Homo sapiens: one gene and its partners. The protein of the gene in region 2 interacts with the protein of the main gene of each other region in a biochemical or structural test. Each region holds a gene or a part of one and is shown on either strand. Other genes may lie near its edges. The genes, in order: NCKIPSD, DIAPH3 and PDCD6.

Region 1 (3,748 bases), on a different chromosome or scaffold from region 2:
AGGTGCTCTGGGAGAGGGGCGCACAGAAGTCTGCAGCCCCATTCCCCTCCGACCCCCGCACCACCCACCCTTCCTGGCTTTCTGTGAGCCTTGGGGATAGCCTCTCCCTGCTAGGCTGTGTAGTCAGCAGGTCCCAGGCCCTCGGGCAATGGGCCCTGGCTTAGGACCTGTGATCAGCTGGTCGGTTACTGCATTCTTACCATAGTGTGCATAGGGCACTGCCTCTCCCATGGAGAAGACCATGGCCAGGATGAGGGCAGAGTAACAGAGTTTCTGGTGGTCTGGGGGGGACAAGGCAGGCAGTCAGAGTCCCCAAAGATGGCAGGAAACCCCAGCAGATGGCAGGAACACCCTCCAGATAGCAGGAAGTTCCCTCCTACCCCGCCCTCCAGCCTCACCCTGCGTGTCTGTCTGCATGTCCCTCGCCAGCTCTACAGGCAGCACGGATGACACAAGCGTGGAGATGATGGCTGCATCCAGGCTGCACATGGCGCCAAAGCACTTGAGGAGCAGCAGCCGCAGTGATGCTCGGTGTTCCTGGCAGGGAACCCTGCGTGCTCAGTGCCTGGAACTCCCCCACTATCTAGGTCTCTCCATTACCCCTCCCCTCCATCCTGCACATACCATTTGGTAATAGGCCACCAAGGCCAGGACAGACTCGAACTCGTTTCTCTTGCACATTTTCTTGCAAACTTCAGGGTCTGCATCAGTCTACAGAAATGAGGAAGTGAGAGCATCAGCCACCATGAGCGGAGCTGTGCAGCCGCACAAGAGAGGGCTGAGCACATATGTGTAGGGGAGACTCCTAGCACTGTGAGGGATGCTACAGGGTGGGGGCCACTGTTCCCCATGTGGGGTATGTGTGTGGGACCCCACCCTTACCAGAATATGCAGCAGCTCCTCTAGGTAGCAGCGGATGACACCCTCATCCTCATATAGTGCCCAACTGCGCTGCTGGGCGTCGTCCTTCCGGCGAGCCAGGTCTGCAAAGATCACCTCCAGCCTCTGCTGGTCGTGGCAGACCTGCCCTGAGGGCAGGGCCATGCTGAGGTCCTAGAGGGAGAGGGCAAGGCATGACTCAGCACACTCCCTGCCCTCACCATCTCCAGGGAGCCTCCAAGGCCTGGAGAGTCCATCTGTGGACTTTTACTCCATGAACTCAAGTCCCTCCTGGCCCACACTGGACAGGAGGCTCAACTCCAGTCTTGATGACCTCCCAGGACAGGAGTCAACGGGAGACTCATCTGTAGGGGGTTTTCAACAGCTCGCCTCTCATCCCAGACCTGGATAAACACCCCCAACTAGGAGGGCCATGAACTCTGTCACTGCCAGAATGTGACTCTGAGACCTCACTCTCCCATTCCACACAAAATGGCACAGGCCTGTCATCTACCAACTTGCCACATTTTCCTTGAACCCTGCTGACCAGGCACTAGCTGTTGTGCCCAGCACAGCCAAGCCCATTGGCCCACTCCCCAACACCCAAACCAGAAGTGTAACAGGAACCATGGAGCACTAAAGAGGGACCTTTGGTCTGTCTGACCCCCATCATGTATGCTGGGCTCACTGCCCCCATCCTGCTCATGAGTGCCAAGGATCCCACCCATCCCATGATGCCCACACACCTCACTCCCTCTCATCCATGTCAGCACCTAGGACTCCATCCCAGCTCTCCCAGCACCCATGTCTCTTACTGCCAAGGTCAGCAAGGCACTACCCTCACCCACGCCGTGTCCATTCCTTCCCTGCAGCCAGACAGAACTCTTGGCCACCCGCATGTCGTCTTATCTGTCACCTGCCCCAGGTCTCACCTCCTCCTACAGCACCCACTCCCTCACTCCCTGTGTTCCAGTCCTGCAGGCCTTGTTCCACTTCCTCCCACAAGCCAGGCTCAGTCCTGCCTTGTGGCCCTTGTCCAGGCTGCGCATCTGCCTGGAATGCTTGTCCTTCCTTTCTGCTTCAGAAATCAGCTCAACGTCCCCAGTGCCCAGCACAGTAAGAGCTCAGAGCCAGAGCTTGAGAAATACCTGTAATGTACAGGCTGGACAAGTGTGTGACGGTGGGAACAGGGTGGGTAGCAGGGTGGCCCTGCTGTGCCGCCCACCCTCACCTTGCCCTCTACGAGTGAGAGGAGGACCTGCTCCATGACTGGTGAGCTGGCCGGCACCGAGGCCTGGATGTGACCCACTATGATGCCGATGGCCACCCGGCATAATTCGTGGCTCAGGCCAGTGTTTCTCCGCACCAGCTCCATCAGCTCGGCCCCAATGGTCCTGGGCACAGCCGCCTCAGCTGCTGCCTTCTCCTCTGTGGTCCCCAGGCTCAGTGTACCCAGGGCTTCCAGGTCATCAGAGGCTGAGGTTGTACCAGTTGCCACTTCTTCTTCTGCAGGGGGTTCAGGTGCTGATGCCTTGGAGGGAGGGGGCTGGACTTGGGACACGGTGGTGTGGGTGCCTCGGCGGGGCACAGGTGGGGGTGTGGGTGAGCAGCTGGAGCCTGGTTCAGATGGGCTGGAGCTGGTATAGAGCGTGTCCAGGGAGGTGCTGCTGACTGAGGAGCCGCTGGACACAGAGTTACCCCCGGAGGGCATGGTGTTGTGGCCACCTGCGAGCAGTGAGTAGAAGCTGGGCCAGGGCAGCCCCCTGGAAAACCATACCCTTCACAGCCCAGATCCCCTGTCCCCTAACACAGGGCCTAGTTTCTCTGCTAGGCACTGCCTCCTCACAAAGCCCAGAGCCCCTAATTGCCCCAAAATGGGAGTCCTGTCCTCTTCCCCAGCTTAGAGCCTCCATTTCCCTGACACAGGCAGCACAACCATTCCAAGCATAGGGTGCCTCCACCTGAATTCCCCTAACCCTGCCTTCTTACCACTCCCAGAGGCCATCAGGGCCTCGCGGTCTCGGCGCTTCACTGGTGGGGGCGGTGTGGTGGGTGCTGCTCGGCGAGGCTGTGGTGGGATCTGGGAAGATGGAAGTGGGATCTGGAAGATGGAAGTAGGATCTTGGAGGACAGACTGACATCTAGAGCGTCAGCGAGGCTCGGGCCCTGAGCCCTGGCTGTGGGCAGGACTATGGCTCTGGGCCGCATCACTCCTGAGTGGACCCCTTGAGCCTCTGGATGAAGCCTCAAGTTCCACCCACCTCCCTTCTCCACGATGTCCTCCCCACACACCTGGTAGAGGCCTCCATCTGCCCCAAGATGCTCAGAACTGGGTAGGCTGTGCTGCCGCTCGAACCCAGCTCGACACACCCCATTGGGCTGCCTGGCTGCAGCAGCATCCAAGTGGTGGTCACTGGTTGATGAGGTCATAACTGCAACACTGGAGGCTGAAGGGCCTCTGCGTGACAGGGTCTCTTTCCGGTGGTGGATCAGCTTCCTGATGGAAGGACAGGAAGACTATTGGGGGGTTGCATCTCACAGCTCAAAGTCCTCATATGCCCCTGTGGGATGCTGGGACCCCATAGCCCAGGCCCCTCAGACATCCCCATCTCCTCCATGCTCCACCCCAGCCTACAGTACCCCATACTATCCTCAGTCCTGCGCTCTGCACACCCCTGGTGCTCACTGAAGGACCCGACCCCACCTTGCTCACTGGGAGGTGCCATTCCCCCACCACCCTTGCCAACCCTCGCATTTCCCAGGCCCACCTGCCCCATGACACTCATTGAAGAACCCCACCCCACCATGCTCACCGGGAGGTCCCACTTCACTCCCCTCAACACTCACTGGAGGACTCCACGCTGTTCCA
Region 2 (3,748 bases):
CCCCTTCCTATATTCTTGCTCTGCCATATGTAGCGCAGTACATGGGCCTTGTCTTCAGGCTAGCTATCCTCATGACCAGAAGACTATGGCAAAATAAGCATCACATCCTGACTATGGCCAAAGGCAAAAAATGGGCTATTGCTTCTTGTTAGCCTTTTTCTTTCAGATGTTGTATTTTTCAATGCTAGAATTTCCACTGTGGTCTTTTTATAGTTTCTGTTTCTCTACAGAGGTTTCCTATCATTTCATTCATTGTGAGCATATTTCATTTATATTCTTAAATATGGTTATACAACTGCTTTAAAATCCTTGTCTATTAATGCTTACAACTGAGTTATCTTGAGACTGGTCTCCATTGATTCCTTTTTCTTGTTTGTATGGGTCACATTTTCCTGTTTTTTCCTAATGTCAAATACCTTTGCACTGTATCCTGAACATTGTGAATGTATGGTGTAGGGACTCTGAATTCCTTCTATTCTTCTGAGAAGTATTGCTTTTTGTGTTTGTTTTAGCAGGCAGTTAACTTGGCTGAACTCTCAAACTGCACATACTGTCCCATCCGCTGGATGGGACCTGAAATCTTAGTTCAGATATGTTAGCCCTACCTGTGCTGCTTGGAGTCTGTCCCATACATGTAGGGTTCAGAAATTTGAGGACTCTACACACAGAATTTGGGGCTACCCATTTGTGGCTCCTTCTCCTCTCCAGGATTTTCTCCTCATTTATCAGCTATATGGTCACCAGAACTCTGCCCTCTGGTTTTTTATGCCAGTACAACTGTGGGCTTATATTCTAGTTTTAACCACCCCACATGACCCTGATTAGGGGCTTCCCTTATGCAAAAAGCTACAAAAAATGACAAACTTATCCAGTGCTAGTCCCTTCTTCCAAGTATTGTCTCCAATAGCCATGTCTTTTGATCACTCTCCAGTGTTTTAATAGTTGCTTTTTATAATTTTGTCATGTGAGAGGTCTGTGGTCCAATGAGATCTCAGCCAATACTGGATGCAAAGTTTTTGTTAGTTCCTTTTTACAGAGCAAAGACATCTTTCTCAGAATTCCCCAGCAGATTTCTCCTTTAGCTTACTGGCTAGAATTGTTTTCATCTGCTCTTTGTTAATCCTCTTTGTTCTGGGGCCTGCATGCCTGGAAGGATTTGGCTGCAACACACTGGCTGGTATACATTAATGAGTTGGGTTACAGCTTATTCATTAAGCTTGTGAGCTTAGTTAATGTGTATCCACCTCAGACATAGATTCAATCTCCATGTGCTGACCATATCACTGTCCAAGGCCCCAGATGTCCAGATGTGTGGAACTTTGGGGCTGCCTCCTCCTGGTGGAGTTCAACAGGCCCAGGCAGAGGTTGCTTGAACCACCTGTGGTTGCCCCAGCTAAAAGGGGAGAAGCAGCCACATTCCACAATCTGGACTGGCTGGGAAGCTGAGCAGGGAGTTCTAGAGTGGCAGCCCAAACTCAGGCAGGCAAGCACTGAAGGATGGTTCCTCATCCTCCCAGCAGGAGGTTGGAGGCTATGAGATACCCTGTCTCTCAGGGGCTGGAAGAGCAAAGAGCAGTATCTCTTTCAGACATCCTGCTGTCAGAAGTTACACCACAGCACAGTCATACATTGGGTTTAATTGTTGCTCCTGCCTGGCCCCTCTTAAAAAAAAAAAAAAAAAAAAAAAAAACCAAATAACCTGTAAAGTCATTTTTTGCCATATAAGGTAACATTCACAGGTTCCAGGGATTAAGGAGTGTCTACCTTTCAGAAGATCATTGTTCGGCCTACTACACCTGCTTCCAAATAACCCAAAGTAATTGGCAAACATGCACTAATCTCATTAAGCTTACTGGGATTTCATCTGTACTCAAATTCCTACTACGTGTACAATCAACAAAAATTCTCCAACCTTGTATATCTTCTCACCTCGCAGCCTGCCTATAATCAGAAAATCAATTCTATATTCATATTATATATTAATTAAAGGCATCACTAATTATTGCTAATGGTTCCTGGATGAGAAAAGAAGCAGTAAAGATTAAAGTTCCCAACAGCTATGGGAGAGAATTCAGGACAGTGATTAAGAATGTGTATTCTAGGCCAGGTGCGATGGCTCACGCCTGTAATCCCAGCACTTTGGGAGGCCGAAGCGGGTGGATCACTTGAGGTCAGGAGTTCAAGACCTGCCTGGCCAACATGGTGAAGCCTCATCTCTACTAAAAATACAAAATTAGCCGGGCGTAGTGACACGTGCCTGTAATCCCAGTTACTAGAAGGCTGAGGCAGGAGAACTGCTTGAGCCCAGGAGGTAGAGGTTGCAGTGAGCCAAGATTGTGCCACTGCACTCCTGTCTGGGCAACAGAATGAGACTTTGTCTCACAAAAAAAAAAAAAGAAAGAAAGAAAGAATGTATACTCTGAAGCCAGCTTGCCTAGATTCAAATCTCAGCCTCATGAACTGGCAGCTGTGTGATTTTAGGCAGCTTAATCTCTGTGTACCTTGGTTTCCTCCTATGGCAAACAAGATTAATAATACTACCTACCTCACAAGGTTGTTCTAAGAATTAAAGGAGTTGATAATTACAACGCACCTAGAACAGTGCTTGGCTCACTCAGAAAGGTTAACTAGTATTACCATCAATGCCCAAACATGGTAAATATACAGAAATTAAAGGACAAGGTGAAAAAATCTCAAAACCGGCCAGGCGCGGTGGCTCACGCCTGTAATCCCAGCACTTTGGGAGGCCGAGGTGGGCGGATCACGAGGTCAGGAGTTCGAGACCATCCTGGTTAACACGGTTAACCCCGTCTCCACTAAAAATACAAAAAATTAGCCGGGCGTTGCGGTGGGCACCTGTAGTCCCAACTACTCGGGAGGCTGAGGCAGGAGAATGGCATGAACCCGAGAGGCGGAGCTTGCAGTGAGCCGAGATCACGCCTCTGCACTCCAGCCTGGGCGACAGAGCAAGACTCCGTCTCAAAAAAAGAAAAAAAAGAAAAGAAAAATCTCAAAACCAACACTGAAGGTACTACAATGACATAATCAATCAATAATTAACAATCTATTTGATGGAAACGATTAGACGATTTACACTGAAGTCTGTGAGAACTTTTAGAGGACTCTCCTAATTAAAAAGAACTCCTTCATCAACTTGGACCACCAATTTACAGGCTCCCTTTGAATGGACTGACCTACATCCTAGAGATGGACACTTCTAGAAGCCACATGTCCTGCTCTGCCACCACTACCTGTGTGTTGCCAAGAGTAATGAGAAACAGGTATTACTGAAAGGCTTTCCACAATCTGTAGGACAACTGTTCTGTTCTACAAAGGATATAGGACTCAGGTCCAGGTATTGAGTGTGGCCTAGGGCAGGTTCCAAGTTTAATTCCTACGGAATTTTATCTGCCTTCACAAAGTCTCCACCCAGATACTTGCCCTGTCCTCTCAGCCTCCTCCATCTCTCTTCTATGCCCCAGTAGCTATCCCTACCATCTCAATGCTCACGGCTTAAGATATTTTCAAATGAGACCAAGTTGGTTAATTCACAAGCATCCCAAAGTCAATTGATTCGTAGCACAGCCAAAGTATCATACAATTACAATAGACTAATTTCTACTATTTATACTTATCTATGGGAAGAGATATCTAAGCTACAAACTCTTTTACCCAACTCACAAGTGACTTGAAGCCCGCAACTATACATTTGGTAGAAAACAAGAATTTGCCAACTTTAACAGGACTC
Region 3 (3,748 bases), on a different chromosome or scaffold from region 2:
CACACTCAGCTTCCGAGGCACGGGGAAGGTAAGTGGCCCCAGCTCCCCTGGCTCCTGGGTCTCGGCCTAGAACGCGAATCTAATTCCCAGAGCTGACCCTCTGACTCTCCAGGGCCCACAGCACTGGTGGAGTCTTGGAACAGCCCTGTCAGGAAAACCTGCTTTAATTAGAAACAGACCCTCGCCTATGTCCTATTTGCTTTCAGTCTAACTCCAGGTCCAAATACAAAAGAATCTATAACTACCTTTATATGTAGTTGCAATATGGCTAAAAAACATAGAAAAATTCAGTGTGAATTACTGCTGCAGAGAAAATGATAAATCACGTGGTCTCTTTTCAAGAACAGAGGTTAATACAGGACTGCAATAAGACTACTCCTGGTTTGATCAGAAATATGTTACAATTAAATGAAAATCCACAGGATGAAAAATCATGTGAGAAACAGCATCGATGTTTCTTCCCAACAGTCCACAACCCTGTGTGCAACCAGTGGCTGTTTTTCACACAACCGTTCCACGACGTGCACCGTTCCACGACGTGTGTGGTGTGTGGACCAGGGGCTGTTTTTCATACGACCATTCCACGATGTGTGCAGTGTGTGTGGACGATGCTGTTGCGTGCAGGACCCACTGCGCACCACACACCAGCAGGGAAGGATGCTGGGTGAGCTGCACCCCAGGGTAAGGGCTCCGCAGAGGAGTGGCTCCCAGGCCATTCCTCTCCGGTGGGGAGGTAGCTCCCCATGTATCAACACCTTTTCTAGCACTAAAGGCTGAGCCCTGCCACTACTACACTTCCAAGTTTTCTCTCCCTCCATCAGTGTGACGTAGCAACATATGCACGACCAGCAGGGCACAGTCATCTGGAAAAGCCCCCAGCTACACCCACACTAGGACTCAGACACCTCACCACACACAGGCTCCGCAAGGAACTCAGGGAATCCTCACAAGACTAAAACACGTGCATGGATGGGAGGCGAGGGAATGAGCCCCAGGCCGCTCTGGGAAACCTCGAGACACAATGCCATGGTCCCTGTGAGGCAGAACTGAACCTGGGATTCCATATTAAAGAGGTCTGAAGGGGGCTGCACCTCCCAGCAAAGGGAACCTTCCAGAAATCAAGTCGGGTAGGGATGGAAACATGACTCTCCTGAACACCTGCCTCCCAGGCCTGCCTGCCCCTGGAGCTGCAGCTCCCACCTGGCTACGGGGGATGGAGACACAGCACGACTCTCCTGAACACCTGCCTGCGCCTGGAGCCTCAGCTCACACCCCGGCTACCGTCTGGGCATGGGGGTGCACACCTGTAATCCCCACTTTTTGGGAGGCTGAGGCAGGAGGATTGCGTGAGCCCAGGAATTCCAGACCAGGCCTGGGCAGCACAGGGACACCCTGTCTCTTAAAAGAAACAAACAAAAACCCAGCTGCCTATACAGCTGGGGAGACCCTGGACCCAAAGAAATGATGCAGACCCTCACATTAAGGCTACACATGAACCCACAAAACAAACAAAAATTACAGAAGCATCAAGGAAGTTGGTCACTCTGTGTGGGCTTGAGCAGGAAAAATATCTGGCTGTAGACCACCCTCCCAAGGACTTCAAACACAGTCAAGGAGCTCCATGTCACAAATATCTAGCGCTTTTCAAAAAAGCATGTTCTTAAAACTGAAGACTATCATATGAAATATTTGAATAAAGAATGGAATCACAAAAATAAATAAGCAATGTCTATCAAAAACACCCAGATAAGATGTGAAAGTAACTAATAATTTAGAAATTTTAAATATATGTCATCTTTAGAATTAGAAACTGAAAGGACAGGTTACACCGTACATTAAAAATAAACAGAATCAAGAATAGAGCAAACATACACGGAGAGATGTGAAAAGGTACAGAGACGGAGGGAGAGGGATGAAAGGGCCGACGCTCATCTAAGTGGAATTCCAGAAGGGAGCAAAGTGATACGGACCCACAGACAAAGGAAACACAAGCGGGTACCCAAGCGGGTCGGATACAAAGCAGCCCAGGTTGGTCCGTCTGCCGATACTTACATATGATCGACCTGACAGTCACTGGATTAAAGGGAGTCCACGTGCCTGAAAACAAACAACAACAGGAGTTAAAGTAAAAGGAAAATCTTTCTGGGACACTGAGTTTGTGATCTATACCTGGAGGCACCAGGAAAAGCAGTGGGGGCTCTAAGGTAGTGGTTTTCTAGACACTCCAGGTGACGTGTCGGCTGCCATGACTCCTGGGAGGGGGCCAAAGCACTGCCTGGTGGGTTCACACCCTGCTGTGTGTGGGAGTCCTTCGTGGCCTCCCAGACCTCCAAGGCCGTCCACAGTCATCGCGGCTGGACATGCACTCTTATTTAACAGATAACCAAGAAATGGTTCTGTATCATTTTACACACAGAATTTTTCAAGGATGCAGTCACCAGCTAAGTTGAGAAGTTCGCACTTAGTTTTGTTAGAGGACTTCACGAATTCCCATTTCAGAAAATCCATCATCAAGGCCACCACTGCCTGCAGACACCTGAACATAGCTTGGTCGCTGTGGCATTCACACTAATTCTACTGAAAGGTGCAAGTACCAGACCCCTTCCTTCCGTTCTCCCTCAGTAATCATCCTAAAGCACGGTGAAGACATCCATCACACCACACTTCAAACATTCCTGACAAATTACGGTCTGGGCTTTATATGATTTTCCTTGAAACTGAATAGGAAAGCTGTACTATCCTCAGACTCATCGTTGAATCTGATACCCTTGAGCGCTCACAACCATTTATCAACTCTGAGAATGAAGATTCACTGATGACCTTCGCACACAAGAACCTATCTTCAGAGTGATTTGTACCTTCAGTAATTTCCATACTCACTAAAAATGAACTAAAAAAATATTTTTAAGGTCAGGAGAGACCAGTGGCTCTCCTCATACCCCGTCTGTGTTAGACACACAGTTTTTTTTTTTTTTTATGCACAAAAATGCCACAGTCCTGGGCAGTACACAGAGACAGCCCCCTGATCTCAGAGAACAATGTCAGGCTCCTGGTGGAGCACGGGCGGTGGGGTCTGCTGGCATGGTCCCTTAGGCCTCTACGTGCCACCACTCTGGGCTCATGGGGCTCCTCCTAGTGCCATGCCCGCTCTCACCTGAAGTGCGTCCCCTCCTAAGACACACACACCCTCCCTCCAGCTCCTTCCTTTCCTTCCTCAGGGAGACTTCCACGGGGGTACCACATTCTCCCAGCCCAGAAGTTAAATCCATTTGCTCCGCCTGAGCACCTCCCAACTTCCCCTTGGGAAGATCCCGCCCTCCAGCAGTTATGCAGGGAAGCTGTGCTCTTCCCACAAAGGCAGGTGCACCTGAACCTGAGGCATACACACAGAGCAGCACTCAATGATCCGCCCTCCAGCAGTTATGCAGGGAAGCTGTGCTCTCCCCACAAAGGCAGGTGCACCTGAACCTGTGGCCCACACACACAGCACTCGATGACCCACCCTCCAGCAGTTATGCAGGGAAGCTGTGCTCTCCCCACAAAGGCAGGTGCACCTGAACCCGTGGCCCACACACACAGCAGCACTCGATGACCCACCCTCCAGCAGTTATGCGGGGAAGCTGTGCTCTTCCCACAAAGGCAGGTGCACCTGAACCCATGGCATACACACAGAGCAGCACTCGATGACCCGCCCTCCAGCAGTTATGCAGGGAAGCTGTGCTCTCCCCACTAAGGCAGGTGCACCTGA

The links.
Region 1: the proteins of DIAPH3 (region 2) and NCKIPSD form a complex in vitro, tested with the Homo sapiens proteins (one study listed by BioGRID).
Region 3: the proteins of DIAPH3 (region 2) and PDCD6 interact in far-western blotting, tested with the Homo sapiens proteins (one study listed by BioGRID).

Annotation. Positions count from the first base shown.
Region 1 is NC_000003.12:48,679,177-48,682,924, forward strand, and holds part of NCKIPSD (NCK-interacting protein with SH3 domain), read right to left. Parts: coding exon 3,727-3,748; intron 3,377-3,726; coding exon 3,172-3,376; intron 2,981-3,171; coding exon 2,869-2,980; intron 2,605-2,868; coding exon 2,111-2,604; intron 1,054-2,110; coding exon 883-1,053; intron 712-882; coding exon 625-711; intron 538-624; coding exon 399-537; intron 282-398; coding exon 201-281; intron 8-200; coding exon 1-7. UniProt on the Homo sapiens protein: Has an important role in stress fiber formation induced by active diaphanous protein homolog 1 (DRF1). Induces microspike formation, in vivo. In vitro, stimulates N-WASP-induced ARP2/3 complex activation in the absence of CDC42.
Region 2 is NC_000013.11:60,157,243-60,160,990, forward strand, and holds part of DIAPH3 (protein diaphanous homolog 3), read right to left. Parts: intron 1-3,748. UniProt on the Homo sapiens protein: Actin nucleation and elongation factor required for the assembly of F-actin structures, such as actin cables and stress fibers. Required for cytokinesis, stress fiber formation and transcriptional activation of the serum response factor.
Region 3 is NC_000005.10:302,526-306,273, reverse strand, and holds part of PDCD6 (programmed cell death protein 6), read right to left. Parts: intron 2,098-3,748; coding exon 2,053-2,097; intron 1-2,052. UniProt on the Homo sapiens protein: Calcium sensor that plays a key role in processes such as endoplasmic reticulum (ER)-Golgi vesicular transport, endosomal biogenesis or membrane repair.